2 separate regions of the Homo sapiens genome follow, and region 2 is linked to region 1. The links come from fine-mapping of genetic effects on plasma protein levels. A gene starts in region 1. The other region holds a variant in brackets. All regions are shown on one strand. Distances are between the middles of the regions.

Region 1 (10,586 bases):
TCATGGCTATAATCCCAGCACTTCAGGAAGCCGAGATGGACAGATTGCTTGAGCCCAGGAGTTCAAGACCAGCCTGGACAAAGTGGTGAAACCCCCTCTCTACAAAAAATACAAAAATTGGCTGGGTGCAGTGGCTCACGCCTGTAACCCCAGCACTTTGAGAGGCCGAGGTGGGTGGATCACGAGGTCAGGAGATCGAGACCATCCTGGTCAACATGGTGAAACCCCGTCTCTACTAAAAATACAAAATTAGCTGGGCATGGTGGCGCACTTACCTGTAGTCCCAGCTACTCGGGAGGCTGAGGCAGGAGAATCAATTGAACCTGGGAGGTGGAGGTTGCAGTGAGCCAAGATCAGGCCACTACACTCCAGCCTGGCGACAGAGCAAGACTCTGTCTCACGGTGAAACCCCGTCTCTACTAAAAAAAAAAAAAAAAAAAAAATTAGCCGGGCGTGGTGGCGGGCGCCTGTAGTCCCAGCTACTCGGAGAGGCTGAGGCAGGAGAATGGCGTGAACCCGGGAGGCGGAGCTTGCAGTGAGCCGAGGCTGCGCCACTGTACTCCAGCCTGGGTGACAGAGCGAGACTCCGTCTCAAAAAAAAAAAAAAAAAAAAAAAAAAAAAAAATTAGCCAGGTGTGGTGGTGTGTGCTTGTAGTCCCAGCTGTTCAGGAGGCTTAGGTGGGAGGGAGGATTGCTTGAGCCCCGGAGACGGAAGTTGCAGTGAGCTGTGATCACACTACTGTACTCCAGCCTGACAGCCTGGGCAACAGAGTGAGACCCTGTCTAAAAAACAGAAAAGTAAAGAAAAAAATAAAATAATTAATTAAGATGGCTGAGTGCTGGCTGGTGTTGTCTCCTCAGCAAGACAGAAGCTCCCTGAGGGCCAGCGCCCACCCTGATTTATTCCTCCTAGTGTCCTTGGGTCCCCAGCTGCCTGGCACAGAGCTTTGGTCCTTGGTGCTCGGTAGAAGTGTCTGGCTGATGTAGAGGAGGGAGCCTGAGTTACAATCCCCCCTCCCCTGCCACTCAGTCTTCGTGTGACATTGGATGTGTCACTTCTTCTTTCTGTGCTCTGGGCCATGAGAACGGGGTCCTTGGGCTATGATGGTGACCTCTGATTCAGACTCCTGCCTGTCTGGTGCCTCTGAGTCAGTGAGAAGAGCGCGGCTGTGACCTCCCTAGACTGTTGTGGTTAAGATTGAGGGACTGCCACTTCCTAGAAATTACCTTGGTCACAGTGGTTAAGCCGTCCAATCTAAGATAAATATTGTACCAAAAAAAATTAAAAAATAAAAACCCACAAAAACACGTCTGAGCTTCTGTAATAGCCTCTGAGAAGCAAGGATGATTCTGGCCCCTGCCTCATGGGCCAGGATCAGAAGTGACGGTAAATGGCAGCTGGAACAAACTCAGGATTACATTTTGGGGATTTGTTTGTTTGCTTGAGACAGAGTCTTGCTCTGTTGCCCAGGCTGGAGTGCAGTGGTACGACCTCGGCCCACTGCAACCTCCACCTCCTGGGTTCAAGTGATTCTCCTGTCTCAGCCTCCTGAGTAGCTGGAATTACAGGCGCCCGCCACAATGCCAGCTAATTTTTGTATTTTTAATGGAGACAGCGTTTTGCCATGTTGATCAGGCTGGTCTCGAACTCCTGATCTCAAGTGATCTGCCCGCCTCAGCCTCCCAAAGTGTTGGGATTACAGGTGTGAGCCACCACCCCTGGCCAGGATTGCATTTTGGAAAGATCACTGCTTAATTATAACAGTTGGCCAGACATGATGGCTCACACCTGTAATCCTGCATTTTGGGAGGCTAAGGAGGAAGAATCACTTGAGGTCAGGAGTTTGAGACCAGCCTAGGCAACATAGCAAGACCCCATCTCTACAAAACACACACACACAAAATTAACCAAGAGTGGTGGGGTGAAGCTGTGGTCCCAGCCACTCAGGAGGCAGAGGCAGGAGGATCCCTTGAGCTCAGGAGGTGGAAACTGCAGTGAGCTATGATTACACCATTGCACTCCAGCCTGGGCAACAGAGTGAGACACTGTTTCAAAAAAAACCAAAAAATTGTAACAGTAACACATACACCTTGTAACAAATTCAACAGTATTGACATCTATAAAGTAGCAAATTATACCAAGATACACACACACACACACACACACACACACACACACACGCGCGCGCGCAAAGTAACAAATAAGCCGGAGCAGTAGCTCATGCCTGTAATCTCAGCACTTTGGGAGGCCTAGGCGGGTGGATCACCTGAGGTCGGGAATTCAAGATCAGCCTGACCAACATGGAGAAACCCTGTCTCTACTAAAAAATACAAAATTAACCAGGCGTGGTGGCGCATGCCTGTAATCCCAGCTACTCAGGAGGCTGAGGCAGGAGAATCGCTTGAATCTGGGAGGCAGAGGTTGCTGTGAGCTGAGATCACGTCACTGCACTCCAGCCTGGACAGCAAGAGGGAAACTTCTTCTCAAAAAAAAAAAAATAAGTAAAATAACAAATGAAAGGTGACAATTTCACCAAGTGCCTCTCCCCAGAAGTAACCTCAGTTACTTTTTTTTTTTTTTGAGATAGTCTCCCAAACTGGAGTGCAGTGGCGTGATCACAGCTCACTGCAGCCTCCACTTCCCAGACAAGAACGATTCTCATGCCTCAGCCTCCCAAATAGCTGGGATTATAGGCATGCATCACCAGGCCTGACTCATTCTTTTGTATTTTTTAGTAGAGGTGGGTTTTTGCCATATTGGCCAGGCTGGTCTTGAACTCCTGTCCTCAAGTGATCTGCCTGCCCCTACCTACCAAAGTGCTGGGATTACAGGCATGAGCCACTGCACTCAGCCCTGTTTACATTTTGTCCAGATTCATTTCACTCCGCTAGGCAGGCAGCTGGAGCCAAACAACTGGGTCCCTGCCGTGTAGCAGTTGCAAGTGGCGGTTGAGGGTGGGCCAAAGGAGGGGTTCCTGTGCCTTGCCTAGCGCTAATGGCCTGGGTTGCCTGGGGGTGGGTGTTACTTAACTCTCCCTCAGAGGGGAACTGGGCTCCCCTGCAACTGTCACATCAGGTCTAGCACTCTGCTTTCAGTATAAGAAAAACAGGCCCTGAGATTTTTTTTTTTTTTTTTTTCCCCTGAAACGGAGTCTCATTCTGTTTCCCAGGCTGGATTGCAGTGGTGTGATCTCGGCTCACTGCAACCTCTGCCTCCTGGGTTCAAGCGATTCTCCTGCATCAGCCTCAGTAGCTGGGATTACAGGCACGTGCCACCATACCCAGCTAATTTTTTGTATTTTTAGTAGGGATGGGGTTTCACCATGTTGGCCAGGCTGGTCTCCAACTCCTGACCTCAAGTGATCTGCCTGCCTCAGCCTCTCAAAGTGCTGGGATTACAGGTGTGAGCCACTGTGCCCAGCCCTGAGATAATTCTCCTTCTAGAAGTTTTCTTACACATTACTTTCACAGCATTGGTCCAGGGACCACCACTGCAGCCTTGTTGGTAAGAGGGAAACAATTATTTATTTATTTATGTATTTTGAGAAAGAGTCTCGCTCTGTTGCTCAGTCTGGAGTGCAGTGGCGTCATATCGGCTCACTGCAACCTCCGCCTCCCGGGTTCAAGCAATTCTCTGCCTCAGCCTCCCAAGTAGCTGGGACTACAAGCACACGCCACCATGCCCAGCTAATTTTTGTATTTTTAGTAGAGACGGGGTTTCACTATATTGGTCAGGCTGGTCTCAAACTCCTGACCTCAGGTGATCCACCTGCCTCGGCCTCTGAAAGTGTTGGGATTACAGGTGTGAGCCACCATGCCTGGCCTAGAAGGAAAGATTTAAAAAGACCACGGCTGGGTGCGGTGGCTCACGCCTGTAATCCCAGCACTTTGAGAGGCCGAGGTGGGTGGATCATGAGGTCAGGAGTTCAAGACCAGCTTGGCAAAGATGGCGAAACCCCATCTCTACTAGAAATACAAAAATTAGCTGGGCATGGTGGCGTGTGCTTGTAGTCCCAGCTACTTGGGAGGCTGAGGCAGAGAATTGCTTGAACCCGGGAGGCGGAGGTTGCAGTGAGCCAAGATCGTGCCACTGCACTCCAGCCTGGCTGATGGAGTGAGACTCCATCTCAAAAAAAAAACCTCAATGAGGCTGAGCACTTTGGCACTTTGGCTCACGCCTGCAATCCCAGCACTTTGGGAGGTTGAGGCAGGAGGATCACCTGACCCTGTGAATTTGAGGCTGCAGTGAGCTATGATCCTGCCATTGCACTCTAGTCTGAGTGACAGAGCAAGATTCTGTCTCTCAAAACAACCCCCAAAACCAATAAAATCCTGCAAGGGGCACTAGCAAGGAGCCAGTGACATAAGGCAGAAGCTTCGTGGCTGTCAAAAAGAAGTGCGATCTTTTTCCTTGTTCCTGGGAATCCTGCAAACATGTCTGCCCCATAGGTAATGCGTAGACAAGGTCATTTGTTATGACATTGAGGATTGCAAAATTGTTCGAAGTGTTACAGGAAAGGGGTCTCGATCCAGACCCCAAGAGAGCATTCTTGGATCTTATGCAAGAAACAATTCAGGACTGGGCACAGTGGCTCATGCCTGTAATCCCAGCACTTTGGGAGGCCAAGGCAGGTGAATCACCTGAGGTCAGGAGTTCAAGACCAGCCTGACCAACATGGTGAAATGCCGTCTCTACTAAAAATACAAAATTAGCCAGGCATGGTGGTGGGGGCCTGTAATCCCAGCTACCTGGGAGGCTGAGGCAGGAGAATTGCTTAATCGGTTGAACCCAGGAGATGGAGGTTGCAGTGAGCCAACATTACACCCATGTACTCCAGCCTGGGTGACAGAGTGAGACTCCATCTCAAAAAAGAAAAAAAAAAAAGTGGAGTGCAGTAACGGGAATGTGTGCAGAACTATGTGTATATTGTGTTGCTTTTGGTGTAAAAAATGGGAATGTGTTTGCAGTGGCATGCCCCTGTAATCTCATCTACTCGGGAGGCTGAGATGGATCACTTGAGCCCAGGAGCTCAAGACCAGCCTGGGCAACATAGCAAAACTCTGTCTCTGAAAAACAGTCTGGAAGCAATAGCTCATGCCTGTAATCCCAACACTTTCGGAGGCTGAGGCAGGAGGATTGCTTGAGCCCAGGAGTACAAGACCGGTTTGGGCAACAGAACAAGACTCCCATCTCTACAAAAAAAAAAAATCTAAAAATTAGTTAGGAGTGGTGGTGCGTGCCTGTAGTCCTAGCTACTTGAGAGGCTAGGGTGGGAGGATTTCTTGAGCCCAGGAGTTTGAGGCTGCAGGGAGCTATGATTGCACCACTGCACTCCAGCCTGGACAATATAGCAAGACCCCTCTCCCTAAAGAAATAATAGGCCGGGCACGGCGGCTCACGCCTGTAATCCCAACACTTTGGGAGGCTGAGGCGGGCAGGTCATGAGGTCAGGAGATTGGGACCATCCTGGCCAACATGGTGAAACCCCATCTCTACTAAAAATACAAAAATTGCCAGGCGCGGTGGCTCACTCCTGTAATCCCAGCACTTTGGGAGGCTGAGGCAGGCGGATCACGAGGTCAGGAGATTGAGACCATCCTGGCTAACACGATGAAACCCCATCTCTATTTAAAAATACAAAAAACGAGCCGGGTGTGGTGGCAGACGCCTGTAATCCCAGCTACTTGGGAGGCTGAGGCAGGAGAATGGTGTGAACCCGGGAGGCAGAGCTTGCAGTGAGCCGAGATCACGCCGCTGCACTCCAGCCTGGGCGACAGAGCAAGACTCCATCTCAAAAAAAAAAAAAAAAAAAAAAAAAATTAGCTGGGCGTGGTGGCGCGTGCCTATAATCCCAGCTACTCAGGAGGCTGAGCCAGGAGAATTGCTTGAATCTGGGAGTTGGAGGTTTCAGCGAGCCGAGCTCACGCCACTGCACTCCAGCCTGGTGACAGAGTGAGACTCCATCTCAAAAAAAAAAAAAAAGAAAAAAAAAAGAAAATAATAAAGGGAATGTTTTGATTATGGAGGCATAGACTATATAGAGAAAGAAAATGATTAATATTAGTTGCCCCTGGGGTGGAGGAAGACTTGCTTTATGTTGTACCCTTCTTTCTGCTTGGATTTTATTGAATTAATTTTTTTTTTGAGACAGAGTCTTGCTCTATCACCCAGGCTGGAGTGCAGTGGCACAATCTCAGCTCACTGCAATCTCCGCCCTCACCTCTCCACCCCCTTTACCCGCAAACCCCCTAGGCTCAAGTGATTCTCTCGCCTCAGCCTCCCAAGTAGCTGGGATTACAGTCATGTGTCACCACGCCTAGATAAGTTTTGTATTTTTAGTAGAGATGGGGTTTCACCATGATGGCCAGGCTGGTCTTGAACTTCTGACCTCAAGTGATCCGACCACCTAGGCCTTGCAAAGTGCTGGCATTACAGGTGTGAGCCATCGTGCCTGGCCTATTTTATTTACTTATTTTTTTTGAGACAGATTCTTGCTCTGTCACCCAGGCTGGAGTACAGTGGCACAATCTCAGCTCATTGCAACCTCCGCCTCCTGGGTTCAAGCAATTCTCCTGCCTCAGCCTCCTGAGTAGCTAGGACCATAGGCTCCTGCCACCACAACTGGCCAATTTTTTTTTTTCAGGCAGAGTTTAACTCTTGTTGCCCAGGCTGGAGTGCAGTGGCGCAATCTTGACTCACTGCAGCCTCCACCTCCCAGATGCAAGTGATTCTCCTGCCTCAGACTCCCAAGTAGCTGGGATTACAGGCACTCGCCAGCAAGCCTGACTAACTTTTTGTATTTTTAGTGGACATGGGGTTTCACTATGCTGGCCAGGCTGATCTTGAACTCCTGACCTCAAATAATCCACCCGCTTTGGCCTCCCAAAGTGCTGGGATTACAGATGTGAACCACTGAGCCTGGCCTCTGCTTGGATTTTATTTTTTTTTTATTTTTTATTTTTTTGAGATGGAGTCTCGCTCTTTCACCCAGGCAGGAGTGCAGTGGCGCTATCTTGGCTCACTGCAAGCTCCGCCTCCTGGGTTCACACTATTCTCCTGCCTCAGCCTCCCAAGTAGCTGGGACTACAGGCACCCGCCGCCACGCCTGGCTAATTTTTTTGTAGTTTTAGTAGAGACGGGGTTTCACCATGTTAGTCAGGATGGTCTCGATCTCCTGACCTCGTGATCCGCCCACCTCGGCCTCCCAAAGTGCTGGGATTACAGGTGTGAGCCACCGTGCCTGGCCGGGTTTTATAATCACATCCATGGATAAGGCAACTTGGTCATGGATGGGGTAAGAGATGGAGGCAAGGAACAGCAGCTCAGGGGAGCCCAGCCACTCTAACCAGGAGAACATAACACACCAGTGGCACTGGTTCAGCCTTGGCAACTATTCTTTTATTGAACATCAGTAACAGAAAGATGCTTGATTTAGGAGGAAGCTTTCCCTCCCTCCCTCCCCCATTGCACCCCGGAACTCAGCAAAGGTGAGCCAGCCACAGAGCATAACACTGTGGCTGGGACACATGTCCATGTGTGTTTCACATACGTGGGCATCTGTGCCACAAGGGTCATGTGGCACCACAGTTCATCAGCTGTGTTTCCCCTTCCTGCCCTGCTGCAGCGCCACAGGTTGGAGGAAAAGCCTGCCTGTGAGCAGGGTCCCGGCAGGGCCCACCCACCCAACAGTGGAGATCGGGCCTCAGAGCTGGGCAGTCATGGGAGTTCAGGGCCTGGCTCGCCTCGGCAGCCTGGTCTTAAAGAGGGACTTGCCCGAGGCCTCGATGTAAGTGACAGTCATCTCTTTGGAGCTGATCTCCACATAGGCAAAGCCACCCAGTGAGTCTTCAGTCCCATAGTGGAAGCGCAGATAGCCGTTGGGGACCTTGCGCTGGTGCCGCTTTGAGGGGTCCATGAAATTCCCAGCCCCACTCAGCACGTAGCCCACGCCATTCTCATCTTGCAGGTACTGAGGATGGAGGACAAGGGGTCAGTGGAGACCCAGCTTTGAGCAGAGCCCTGCCTAAGGTCCAGGGCTCGATCTGGCCCTAACCACAGAGTCACCTTGAGGTATGTAACCCCTCCTGGCTTCAATTTCCTGACTTTTAGGAGTGTATTAATCCTATTTCATAGGTAGAGCACTTAGTAAGAAATTGGTGGCCAGGTGTGGTGGCTCATGCCTGTAATCCCAGCACTTTGGGAGGCTGAGGGGGTGGATTGCTTGAGCCCAGGAATTTGAGACCAGCCTGGGCAACATAGTGAGACCTTGCCTCTACAAAAAAAATGCGCAAGGGCCAGGTGCAGTGGCTCATGCCTATAATCCCAGCACTTTGGGAGGCCGAGGCGGGCAGATCACTTGAGGTCAGAAGTTCGAGATCAGCCTGGCCAACATGGTGAAACCCCGTCTCTACTAAAATATAAAAATTAGCAAGGTTTGGTGGCCCATGCTTGTAATCCCAGCTACTTGGGAGGCTGAGACAGGAGAATTGCTTGAACCCAGGAGGCGGAGGTTGCAGTGAGTTGAGATCGTGCCACTGCACTCCCTCTCAAAAAAAAAAAAAAAAGCAAAAATTAGCTGCATGTGGTGGCCCATGCCTGTAGTGTCAGCTACTCTGGAGGCTGAAGTGGGAGGTTCACCTGAGCCCGGGAGATTGAAGCTGCAGTAAGCCCCGATTGCACCACTGCACTCCAGCCTGGGTGAAAAACAATGAAACCTTGTCTCCAAAAAAAAAAAAAAAAAAGAGCTTAAAAAAGAAAGAAAGAAAGAAATTGGCAATTCGAAGATATTATTCTGGCTTTGGAGTGTTTTCCTGGTTAGACAGCAAGATTTGAGGGACAGTCTAGACATTCTGAAGGCCACAGGAGACCCTCAAACAGCAGGAGGACCCCAGCCATGTGGACATCAGCTGGGATGGGGACCCCCCTCACCCAGCTCCCACCCCACCCACAGGGCCCTCACCTGCAGATTGTGATCGTGGCCGCACAGGTAGGCAGTGACCCCGTATGTGGCCAGCAGTGGCCGTAGCTGCTTGACCAGGCAGTGGGTAGGCCCGTGCTCGGCTATGGACCACACGGGGTAGTGGCCAGCCACCAGCACGTAGTCCTCCCTGGCCGCCGCCAGCTGTTTCTTGAGCCAGGACAGCTGTGTGCGGGCCAGCTTCACGTCTCGGGGCCTCTCAGGCTGCTGGCTGAGGAAGTCATCTGAGTTGCCACATAGTGTCACTGTGTCCAGCATAAAAATGGCCACAGACACATTGGTCTGTGGGATCTTGAAGTGCAGGCGGTAGAAAGGGCTGGGGAAGTTCCTGTGGAGGGGATAGAGGTCGTGGGTGCACATCTTGGGCGCAGAAGTCCCAGGGTCAGCTCAAGCCACAGGGCCCCTGTGTCCCTGCTATGTGAGGATCTCGGAAGGCAGGGCTGAGGGTGGCTCACCAGCGCTTGGAGATCTTAGAGTATGCAATCTGGGCAGAGACATTGCCAAGGTGGTCATGGTTTCCGGCTAGCACGTACCAGGGCACTTTGCGAAGGGAGCGGTCAGAGAATACGTCCTCAAAGGTCTCCTGTAGCAAACAGATAGGGCAGGCCTCTTCCCTGGGGTCAGTGGCTATGCCGATCCTCCCACCAAGTCAGGATAAGGGAGACACTGAATGCTCCCGGCGCCCAAAGGTGCCCCATCACCTTCCCTCTGCCCTCACCAAAGGAAGGTCACTAGGTAAGGCGGCTTCTCCCCACTGCCCGCCCCCACCTCCTGCCCCACTCTGTTGGGCACAGACCTGGAACCTCTTGTCATTGATGTCTTGCACACCAGTGAAGTAAAAATTGTCCCCTAGAGACAGGATGAAGTCTGCACCCAGGATCTGCACAGTCCGAGCGATCTCCTTGGCATTGGCCATTTCCCGGGCCGTGTGGAATGGGGCATTGGGGACCCCTCCCCAGTCACCCACGGCTACAAAGCGCAGGGCAGGGGTGGCACCATCAGCCAGGGAGGGTAGCAACAAGGCTTGCAGGATGAGCAGCGCCGTCCACATGTCCATCTGGGAGAAGAGAGACAAGCATAGGTGGCCCGGGCTGTGACAAGGGCAGGGAGGCCTTGAGACCCCCGCCTGCCCTGAGATAGAGGGAGACTGCTTGCTGCAGGCTGCCCCTGCGGGAACCCCTTGGTGCCCTAATTCTCAGGACACACAAGCTGCACAAGGCTGCACAAGCTGGCTTAGGGAAGGGGGGCGCGGTCTGTGAGAGGGCGAGCTGTACCAAGATGGCCCTGCAGGCCCATTTCACCCTCCTTCCACCTAGCCTGCCCAGCACTCACCCAGGGGGAGACACAGGCCAGTCACCGGAGGCTCTGAGAGGCTGGTGGGCTCTAGAGTAGAACTGCCGGTCCCTGAGCCTTTATTCCCTGAGGAGGAAGTGGATCATTAGTGAGGATGATGCAGTTTCTCCGAGGGCTGTCCCGGGAGCCCTCCCCTTGGGTCATGTGAGCCCTGGACTTCCCTGGAGCAGGACACGGGATTGGGGTGGGGGTGGGAGGATCTGGGCACACGTGTGCAGCAGCCTCGGCCCACACAGCCTCCGGGTGGACCTGCAG
Region 2 (10,586 bases), 53 kb after region 1:
GCTGGAGTGCAGTGGTGCAATCTCAACTCACTGCAACCTCTGCTTCCCGGTTCAAGTGATTGTCCTGCCTCAGCCTCCTGAGTAGTTGGGATTACAGGTGCCCACCATCACACCCGGCTAATTTTTGTTTCGTATTTTTAGTACAGACAGGGTTTCACCATGTTGGCCAGGCTGATCTCAAACTCCTGACTTCAGGTGATCTGGCCGCATCGGCCTCCTAAAGTGCTGGAATGGATTACAGGTATGAACCACTGTTCCTGGCATATATGCTTTTGCTTCTAATTTATCAATAGGCCTCTTATGCCAGCACTACAGAGTAAAAAGCAACATGCAAAAGTCAGCTTTTTGTCTGTACACTTCCACGGAACAATCCAATCACTTCGTTGAAGGTGTCCAGCAAGCTCTTGTTGAGAAAATCCCTGTTGAAACTTCTCAGTGTCAAAAGCCCAGGTATCACAGGATAGAGTAGCAATCAGCAACCAAACCATGACTGTATGTGGAGATGACATATTCAGCCCCAGATAATGTATTCACATGAGTGAAGGGTGGAGTCATTGCCTGTCAGATTCTACAGTCATTTGGATTAGAGAGGGCAATACAGAGTTAGGTGCTACTGAATCCAACCACTGAGTCCTTCTCCCTTGAAGGCAACACCCACAGTGATAGTGTGGGCCACAGAGTAGAAACCCCACCATCAACACGACTCCAAATGTGATTTTGCCCGGGATGCAGGTGCTGTGTTGGGATGCAGGTGCTGTGTGGGGATGACCAGTGAAGGTAGGGGACACTGGAAGCACAGGGTGAGGGAGATGAACAGGACACAGCTGAGCCTGATTATTGGCCTTGACTGTGGGAGTATCTTGATGCTTCACAAACACCCCAGAGAGGACATTGTAGCACAGGCCCAAAGAGTGTTCATAAACCAGAGGGCCACCACTTTTGGAAGGCAGTGATGTGGCTTTCTGTTTGAGTCCTGATGCTCTGTTGACAGCATACACTGTTCTTCATCTGATTAGAAAAGCAATGCCGGCTGGGCGCAGTGGCTCACGCCTCTAATCCCAGCACTTTGGGAGGCTGAGGTGGGCAGATCACCTGAGGTCAGGAGTCCGAGACCAGCCTGACCCGCCTTGGACCTATTGGACTGAACAAACGGGAGCAAACACAGGAATAAAAGACAAGAGACAAAAGAGTATATTTGGAAGAAGGGGTTGGGGGGCACCTTGCCTCTAGTGGACAAGGGCCCCGAGCTTTACACAGCCCTCTGTATTTATTAGACAAAAGAGCGAGAAAAGCGGGGGGTGATTGTTGGGTAATTGTCAGTTGGCCATTTGGTTCACACCAGGCTTGTGAGACTGCATCCTTTGGACAATAGGCACTAATTTTCTCAGTAGATAACTTCAAGGAGCCCAGTGCCAGGGAGTGATGTCCCTCAGCAAACCTTTTGGTGGCAGGGCAGTGAGTTTGCCCACATCCTGCATTCATGATAAACAGTTTGCTGTTTGATCCCATATAGACTCCTGCGGAATGCTGAGTTGGTCACGTCCCACGGGCCTTCGGCTCCCTGCATATCCCCCTTTTTGTTTATGTATTAATTGAAAGAATGTAAGGCCAGGCTGAGCAGCTCTCATTGTCCGATTGGCGGTCCATCTGATTTTACAGAAAACATAGCATTAGAACTGTGTTGTGACTCTGTTAGGCCTTCTCTCTCTCTTTGCACCCAGGCTCAGCTGGCTCATGGCTCGTACTGGAGGGACCGGGCCCATGGTTGGCCACCCTGGGTTCCTCCCGTCTCCCGTTCATGGTCGCACACACCTTGAGGGCACCCAAACGGTGTGCCCATCTCCTGTAGAAACACAAGCATGCTCTCTTCCCCATGTCAGTAAATCCACCGGACTTTTCCATTGTCCTTCTTCCAGGGATTTCCATAACACTTTCAGATAAACTTTCCTCTTTTCCTCTAACACTTGTCAATGTCTTTCTGCTGGAGTCTTACCATCCGGACCAGGAGCCAAAAAAATTTAAAGTAAATAAAAATAATAAAAAGTTCTGATTGAGGTGGTAAGTGGCCTCCTATACCCCCTTTTTGTTTTTTCAACATGTGTTGTAATGTTTGATGTGCCTGCTCTATAATGCCTTGTCCTCTAGGATTATAAGGAATTTCTATTTTATGGGTTATAGCCCAAAGCTGTAAGAAATTTTGAAAAGCATGGCCAGTATAAGTGGGTCCATTGTTAGTTTTTAATTGTTTAGGTATTCCCATATGAGCAAATGATGACAGATGATGTCACCATACATGACCAGCTGTCTCACCTGTTTGGCATGTAGCATGCAGCATTTGAGAATAAGTGAAATAAATTAAGCAGTTCTGGGTCTAGTGTACTTTTAACTGTAGCAGTTTCTACGCGACTGGCTACATTTACAACATAAGCTGAATCACAGACAATGTTGATAGGATCTGAAGCTGTGAGCTGTAAAACCTGAATGACTGCAGTTAGCTCTGAATGTTGAGCTGAAACCCCAGAGGTCGTTATTGTTTTGGGACCTTTTTGGAATCACAAATACTGGAGAATTCCAGGGGCTAACTGACTTTTCTTTTTTTTTTTGAGACAGTCTCGCTCTGTCGCCCACGCTGGAGTAAAGCTCTGTCTCCCGGGTTCATGCCATTCTCCTGCCTCAGCCTCCCAAGTAGCTGGGACTACAGGCGCCTGCAACCATGCCCAGCTATTTTTTTTGTATTTTTAGTGGAGACGGGGTTTCACTGTGTTAGCCAGGATGGTCTCGATCTCCTGACCTCGTGATCCTCCCGCTTGGGCCTCCCAAAGTGCTGGGATTACAGGCGTGAGCCACCGCGCCCGGCCTGCTAACTGACTTTTCTATATGTCCTGTGTTCAATTGCTCTTTTACCAACAGATGAAGTTCATCTAGCTTCTTTTGTGATAGGGGCCATTGATCCACCCACACAGGTTTGTCACTGAGCCATTCTAATGGTAAGGCAGTGGGCAAAGGAGAAATATCAAATATCAATGACCCCCCCGTCAGAAATCCTTGTGTCCTAGCCCTTTTCTATCTGTTTTTCCAGTTACTGATATCGGGTTAGGATTTCATTGTAGAAATTTCCCTAAACCTTTTTCACTCTGATATCCCATGTTCTTCAACATTTTAAATCCTGGATTATCAAAGTTTTCATTTGTAAGTCTCCTATCCCATGCTGTAAGTCTCGACCCCATAAATTGATGGCTATATTTGCAACATAAGGCTGCAAAGTCCAGAGCAAGCTTAAAGTTGTAAAAGTTCTTTAATAAATAAACAGAGTAACCTGATAGGACGGGCGCGGTGGCCCACGCCTGTAATCCCAGCACTTTGGGAGGCCGAGGCGAGCGGATCACGAGGTCAGGAGATCCAGACCATCCTGGCTAACACAGCGAAACCCCGTCTCTACTAAAAATACAAAAAATTAGCCGGGCGCGGTGGCAGGTGCCTGTAGTCCCAGCTACTCGGGAGGCTGAGGCAGGAGAATGGCGTGAACCCGGGAGGCGGAGCTTGCAGTGAGTGGAGATCGCACCACTGCACTCCAGACTGAGCGACAGAGCGAGCCTCCGTCTCAAAAATAAATAAATAAATAAATAAACAGAGTAACCTTAGCTCTCTGAGTGCTAGTAAACTCAGATCGAGTGATTGAATTATGTGGTCTCTACTAGCCTGCTGCTTTTCCATGTTTACCAGACCCATCAGTAAACCGTGTTAAAGCCTTAGGTATGGGGGAGTGAAATACCGCTTCGAATTGCCTTTTACTTAAACGAATCCTGATGATATGAGGGTCATAACTTAGCATTTGGACTGCATTAATCATTAAGATTGCTAGCTGAAATAGTAATAAGTTTAAAAAGAAAATCTGAACGCGTCTCTAGAAGCAGAGACTTAAATGATATACTTTAACCATGTGCTTAAAACCACGGGCGGAATAGCTTAAATCTTGTAATTGAGTTTTTGGGCTGACCAAGTTTATGGACTTTAATCTGGCAAACAGTCTTGAAAACAGTGACTCACTGGCTGGGGAACTCAATTTAGGACTCTTTTAGCAAGTACAAATCACACTATCTGTAATCAGTGGGTAAGACAGTCATTCATGCATAAGTTTTCACTACACTTACAACTTTTCTTCACTTTCTGAGAAGGACACAACATTTTTACCTTCTAATTTGACAAATATCATTTAATTAGGTTTAAAGTTCTCCTTTAAAGGGTAATGTGTGGTTTTACATGCCTAGCTTTTAATTACTCATTAATGAATTCGTGGGCCCTCTGTAATCTCTTTCCCTTCAGAGGTTACTGTTTTACTTAAATTGAATTTGGAAAGCTACCTTAGGGGTAGGAGAGAGATAACAGTGGCCATTATTAGAAAAGAGGTTTTTCAAATTCTTACATTTTACTTAAATCTTAGCAGAGAATCATAGTCTGGGACGTACGTAACACATGAACTTTTGC[T/C]ATGGGCTGCTCACAGAGCCAGAGGGCTGCGGTGCAGGTCCTTGGCGGCGGCCGCATTGTACTTGCTCAGGTTTTGCCTGTGTCTGCGCCGCTCCCTCCCTCCTTTGCCGGGGGTGGGGCATGCTGCCAGCCTGGGCGGACCTTGTGGGCTTGGTCGCTGCCAGCTTTTCTGCTGCTGAACCTTCTATTCCGCCCACCGCTTGCTTGGTCGCGCGGTTTCGGCTTCTAATGCCTTTTTTCTTTCTTTTTTTTTGAGACGGAGTTTTTGCTCTTGTTGCCCAGGCTGGAGTGCAATGGCGCGATCTCGGCTCACCGCAACCTCCGCCTTCCAAGTTCAAGCGATTCTCCTGCCTCAGCCTCCCGAGTAGCTGGGATTACAGGCACTTGCCACCACGCCCGGCTAATTTTGTATTTTTAGTAGAGACAGGGTTTCTCCATGTTGCTCAGGCTGGTTTCGAACTCCCGACCTCAGGTGATCTGCCCACCTCAGGTGATCTGCCCGCCTCAGCCTCCCAAAGTGCTGGGATTACAGGCATGAGCCACCTCGCCCGGCCTTTCTTATCTTTTTACAGACATACACCTGCTTGCCTTGCCGATTTTGCATTACTGAGCAGGTTAAGAGCTCTCCTTCTAATGCTGCCTGCTCAAGACAGGGACTGATAGCTGTAGCGTATCCTCTGTCCTTTTTCCTATCTATTGGAGGAGGAGGCTTAGGTAAGACCTCTGTTTCCTCTTTGTTATTTTTGGCCCAGTGATATTGGGGCTGAGGGAAGAGAAGGTGATAAGGCAGGTGACGTTTTCTCCTCCTTCCTCTTTTTAGGCTCTTCTGTGTGTAAACTGAGCCAGGACTGCTCTAATTAAAGCCCATAACGTTAAAGATTTTACTGGGACCTGATGCCTTTGCACCTGATGTTGTTCAAGATTTCTCCCCACTCATTCCCAGAGTTCTAAGCCTAGCGTTCCTTCTTCCGGGAACCATGGGCTTATGTACTCCATTATTGACCACACTAGTTTTTAATTCCTTCAACAACTTAAATTCTAGTGGGGTGTGTTCATGAATAAACTGCTGTGGATTATTTGAATCGGGCCTTACGGAAATAGGAAAAGTGCAAGGTCCTAAGGGCTCTCCAGCTATGGCAGCAGAGCATAAAGTTGTTTGTTTTGGGGTCTCTATTTCTGCTACTGAAGGAGGCAGTACAGATGTTTCTGCGATTGGAGGAGGCGGTATAGGCCAATTTTTATCCTCCCTCACCTGTTTTTTATTTTCAGTTGGCGCTGTGGGTGGGACAACAGATTCTTTCAGATTTTTAGACTCAGCCTGCTGTCCCGCAGAATAATAAGGAGCTAATGGCAGAAGTACAGTATGAACTAAACTCCAAGTGGAGAAAACTGAAGAATCAACTTTAAAACCTTTTTGATGAGCCTGTTTTAATCCTTCTCCTGCTCTGTCCCAATTTTCCGCATCAAGAGTGCCTGCCTGTGGAAACCATGGGTGATGCGTGAATAACCATTTGTGGCTTCTGCAGGAGGTTAGTTAGTGCCTGCGAATTAACCTGAGCTCCAGACTGTCTCAACAGAAACTTAAGCAAGTGCACATAATGTTTTTCTTCAGTAGACAAATTCTTCCCCTTGTTAACCTGATTCAGAAAACTTCCCCTTCCCAGTACTTCTTTAAAGCACTGCCCCCAGTACTTCTTTAGGGCACTGACCTTACATACGCTATCGGCAGACTCATCCCGGAGTCCCCGTGCGTCTTGTCAATTTCAGTTCCTCTACTCCAGCAGACCTTCTTCGTTCACGTCCTCATAGTCCCGTGTTTGGACTGCCGCCTGTTCGAGTGCCACTTATAGAGCTTCCGATCCTGTCGCTGTTTGGGGTGCCACTGTGTAACCTGCACGGACCTAGGGGGACTGAACAAAGGGGGGCGAACGTGGGAATAAAAGACAAGAGACAAAAGAGTATATTTGGAAGAAGGGATGGGGGCAGCACCTTGCCTCTAGTGGACAAGGGCCCCGAGCTTTACACAGTCCTCCGTATTTATTAGGCCAAAGGGATAGTGAGAAAAGAGGGAGTGATTGTCGGGTAATTGTCAGTTGGCCGTTTGGTTCTGTTTGGTTCACAGCAGGCTTGTGAGACTGCATCCTTTGGACAATAGGCACTAATTTTCTCAGTAGATAACTTCAAGGAGCCCGGTGCCAGGGAGTGATGTCCCTCAGCAAACCTTTTGGTGGCAGGGCAGTGTGAGTTTGCCCACAACCTGCATTCATGATAAACAGTTTGCTGTTTGATCATATAGACTCCTGCGGAATGCTGAGTTTGTCGTGTCCCAGCGGCCTTTGGCTCCCTGCACTGACCATCATGGAGAAACCCCGCCTCTACTAAAAATACAAAATTAGCCAGGTGTGGTTGCGCATACCTGTAATCCCCGCTACTTGGGAGGCTGAGACAGGAGAATCGCTTGAACTCTGGAGGTGGAGGTTGCGGTGAGCTGTGATCACGCCATTGCACTCCAGCCTGGGCAAAAGCGAAATTCTGTCTCCAAAAAAAAAAAAAAAAAAAAAAAAAAAAAAGAAAGAAAGAAAGAAAAGAAAAGAAAAAAGAAAAGCAACGCTGCAGTTTGTAAGTTTCAACAATTTAGAATTAAAAGTTATTTTGGCAATCTAGGACTCATTCTTCATTCTGGCTGCAGACAGAGCTATGGATAGGGAATGTCACACATATTTTTAAGGTTATGTTGTCTTTTATGTTAAATGGATAACATTTCCACTTTGCGTTTCCATATGCAATGGAAGGCCAAGGCAGCAGAATCCCTTGAGGCCAAGACTTCAAGACCAGCCGGGCAATATAGTCAGACTGTGTCTCTACAAAATATTTTTTAAATTGTTTATATAATTTATGAGATTCCAGTGTCATGCTGTCAGCTAATATTAGGAAATTAGTAGGTGTGACTATGGTATTCTGGTTATGAGAAATGCTTCAATTTATTTTATTTTATTTTTTTTTTGAGACGGAGTTTCGCTCTTGTTGCCCAGGCTGGAGTGCAGTGGTGTGATCTCAGCTCACTGCAACCTCCGCCTCCTGGGTTCAAACGATTCTCCTGCCACAGCCTCTCAAGTAGCTGGGATTACAGGCATGCGCCACCAGGCGCAGCTAATTTTTGTAGTTTTAGTAGAGACGGGTTTCACCGTGTTGGCCAGGATGATCTCCATCTCTTGACCTCGTGATCCGCTCGCCTCAGCTTCCCAAAGCGCTGGGATTACAGGCATGAGCCACCGCGCCCAGCCTTTTTTTTCTTTTCTTTTCTTTTTTTTTTTTTTTTTGAGACGGAGTCTTGCTCTGTCGCCCAGGCTGGAGTGCAGTGACGCGATATCCGCTTACTGCAAGCTCCGCCTCCCGGGTTCACGCCATTCTCCTGCCTCAGCATCCCGAGTAGCTGGGACTACAGGCGCCCGCCACCACGCCCGGCTAATTTTTTGTATTTTTAGTAGAGACGGGGTTTCACCGTGTTAGCCAGGATGGTCTCGATCTCCAGACCTCGTGATCTGCCCCCCTCGGCCTCCCAAAGTGCTGGGATTACTTACATGCTTGAGCCACCGCGCCCGGCTTTTTTTTTTTTAACAGTCTCGCTCTGTCACCCAGGCTGGAGTGCAGTGGCGTGATTTCGGCTCACTGCAACCTCCGCCTACCAGATTCAAGCGATTCTCGTGCCTCAGTCTCCTGAGTAGCTGGAATTATAGGCGTGTGCCACCACTCCTGACTAATTTTTGAATTTTTGGTAGAGATGAGGTTTCACCATGTTGGCCAGGCTGGTCTCAAATTCCAGACCCCATGTGATCCGCCTGCTGTGGCCTCCCAAAGTGCTGGGATTACAGGTATGAGCCACTGTGCCCAGCCTCAGAAGTGCTTCCGTTCTTGAGATGTGAAAATTGCCTTTTTAGATATACGTTAAAAAAAAAAAAATAGAGATGGAGCCTTAGTATGTTGACCAGGCCGGTCTGGAACTCCTGGCATTAAGCGATCATCCCATCTAGGCCCCCCATAGTGCTAGGATTACAGGCATGAGTAACCACACCTGAGATGTTTTATATTTGCAGTTTTTAATAAAGCAAAGTCAAAAAGAACAATTTTTAGGATAAATGACCTTAGGTTGAAAACATTTTTATTTTCAAGGAAAAATTTGTGAATTCATTCCTGTACCAAAAAATTACATCCAGTTCATTTACTACAGCATGAAATTTTATTGAAAAGAACTTAATAATTTCAAATGTGAGCAGAGGTTATTTTATTCTTTCCTTTCACTTACTGTCTGTCTCCCTGAGTTTCTTTCTTTTTTTTTTTTTTTTTTTTGAGACAGAGTTTCACTCTTGTTGCCCAGGTTGGAGTACAATGGCGTGATCTTGGCTGACTGCAGTCTCTGCCTCCTGGGTTCAAGCAATTTTCCTGCCTCAGCCTCCCGAGTAGCTGGGATTACAGGCATGCACCACCATGCCCGGCTAATTTTGTATTTTTAGTAGAGACGGGGTTTCTCCATATTGAGGCTGGTCTCGAACTCCTGACCTCAGGTGATCCTCCCGCCTCAGCCTCCCAAAGTGCTGGGATTACAGGCGTGAGCCATCACACCTGGCTGGATCTTTTACCTACCATATAGGTAAAACCATGGTCAAAAGTGATACAGAAGCAGGAGGAGCAAGATGGCCAAATAGAACCCTCCAGTGATTGTTCCCCCAACAAGAACACCAAATTGAACAGCTATCCACACAAAAAGTAACTTAGGCTGGGCGCAGTGGCTCACACCGGTAATCCCAGCAGTTTGGGAGGCTGAGGCAGGCAAATCACGAGGTCAGGAGTTCAAGACCAGCTTGGCCAATATGGTGAAACACCGTCTCTAGTAAAAAATACAAAATTAGCTGGGCATGGTGGTGTGCACCTGTAATCCCAGCTACTCAGGAGGCTGAGGCAGGAGGATCGCTTGAACCCGGGAGGTGGAGGTTGCAGTGAGCCGAGATCGTGCCACTGCACTCCAGCCTGGGTGACAGAGTGAGACTCTGTATCAAAAAAGAGAAGAAGAAGGAGACGGAGAAGGAGAAGAAGAAGAAGAAGAAAGGAGAAGAAAGAGGAGAAGAAGAAGAAGAACCAAACATCAGCTGTGCAATCACAGTGCCTGGTCTTATATTAAGTAAAGAGGCACGGAAGAGGGTGGGAAAGCAGCCTTGAATTGCCTATGCCACCACTTTCCCATCCTCTCGCAGAGGCCAAATGGCATAGAGAGTGAATCTGTAAGCTTGGGAGAGGGAGAGCGCAGTGATTGTGGCACTTTGCATTGGAACTCAGTGCTGCCCTGTCATTAGCAGAAAGCAATATGGGGCAGAACTCAGCCAGTGCCCATGGAGGGAGCGTTTAGATCAGCCTTAGCCAGAGTTGAATTGTCCATCCCAATTGCCAGAACCTGAGTTCTGGCAAGCCCTGTCACCGTGGGCTAAAATGTTCTGGTGTCCTGAAGAAACTTGAAAGGTAGTCAGGATCACAAGGACTGCAATTCCTGTGTAAGTCTTGGTGTTGGGTGGGCTTGGACCCAGCGGACTTGGTGTGCACATGACCTAGTGAGACACTAGCTGGGGTGGCAAAGGGAATACTTGTGCCACCACTCTCCTGACCCCAGGCAGTACAGCCAGCAGCTCAGGGAGAGACTACTTCCTTCTACTTGAGAAGAAAGGGGAGAGTAAAGAGGACTTATATTGCAACTTGGATGCAAGCTCAGCAACAGTATAATAGGGCACCAGGCAGAGGCGTGAGGCCTCTATTCCAGGCCCTAGCTCCTGGACATTTCTAGATACACCCTGGGCCAGAAGGGAACCTACTGCCTTGAAAAGAAGGACCCAGTCCTGGCAGAATTCATCACCTTCTGAACCCCTGGGCCCTGAGTGATCAGCAGGGGTAGCCAGGCTGTACTTGTATGGGCCTTGGGTAAGACTTAGAGCTGTACTGGCTTCAGGTGTGACCCAGCACCTTTCTACCTGTGGTGGCTATGGGGAGAGATTCCTGCTGCTGGAGGAAAGGAGAGGGAAGAATAGGCCAGGCGCAGTAGCTCATGCCTGTAATCC

Alleles and levels. Positions count from the first base shown, and alleles are read on the strand shown. Strength reflects both the effect of a copy and how common the allele is.
For the plasma level of the protein whose gene starts at base 10,363 in region 1, allele T in region 2 goes with a higher level than allele C (strong association).

What was found. PIP is the chance, under the fine-mapping model, that this variant and not a neighbour inherited with it causes the effect. The UK Biobank Pharma Proteomics Project read protein levels with antibody pairs (Olink). The fine-mapping took linkage between variants from a reference panel, not from the people measured, so its PIPs are less certain.
Region 2: its variant is fine-mapped to the plasma level of the ACP5 protein (UK Biobank, PIP above 0.99).

The regions. Positions count from the first base shown.
Region 1 is chr19:11,567,283-11,577,868 of GRCh38, forward strand. ACP5 (acid phosphatase 5, tartrate resistant) reads right to left here and starts at 10,363. Exons shown (of 5, transcript NM_001611.5): 1 at 10,311-10,363; 2 at 9,775-10,035; 3 at 9,434-9,561; 4 at 8,961-9,306; 5 at 7,378-7,970. The coding sequence starts at 10,035. The coding sequence ends at 7,728. LOC124904638 (a long non-coding RNA gene) reads left to right here and starts at 7,967. Exons shown (of 2, transcript XR_007067140.1): 1 at 7,967-8,071. RefSeq lists a silencer at 591-640 and enhancers at 1,051-1,140, 9,849-10,461, 10,462-10,586, 10,543-10,586.
Region 2 is chr19:11,620,213-11,630,798 of GRCh38, forward strand. It overlaps the pseudogene VN2R12P. Among named protein-coding and RNA genes, the nearest start is that of ZNF627, 28 kb to the left of the region's middle. RefSeq lists an enhancer at 3,426-3,926. The variant T/C (reference allele first, on the strand shown) is at 4,486.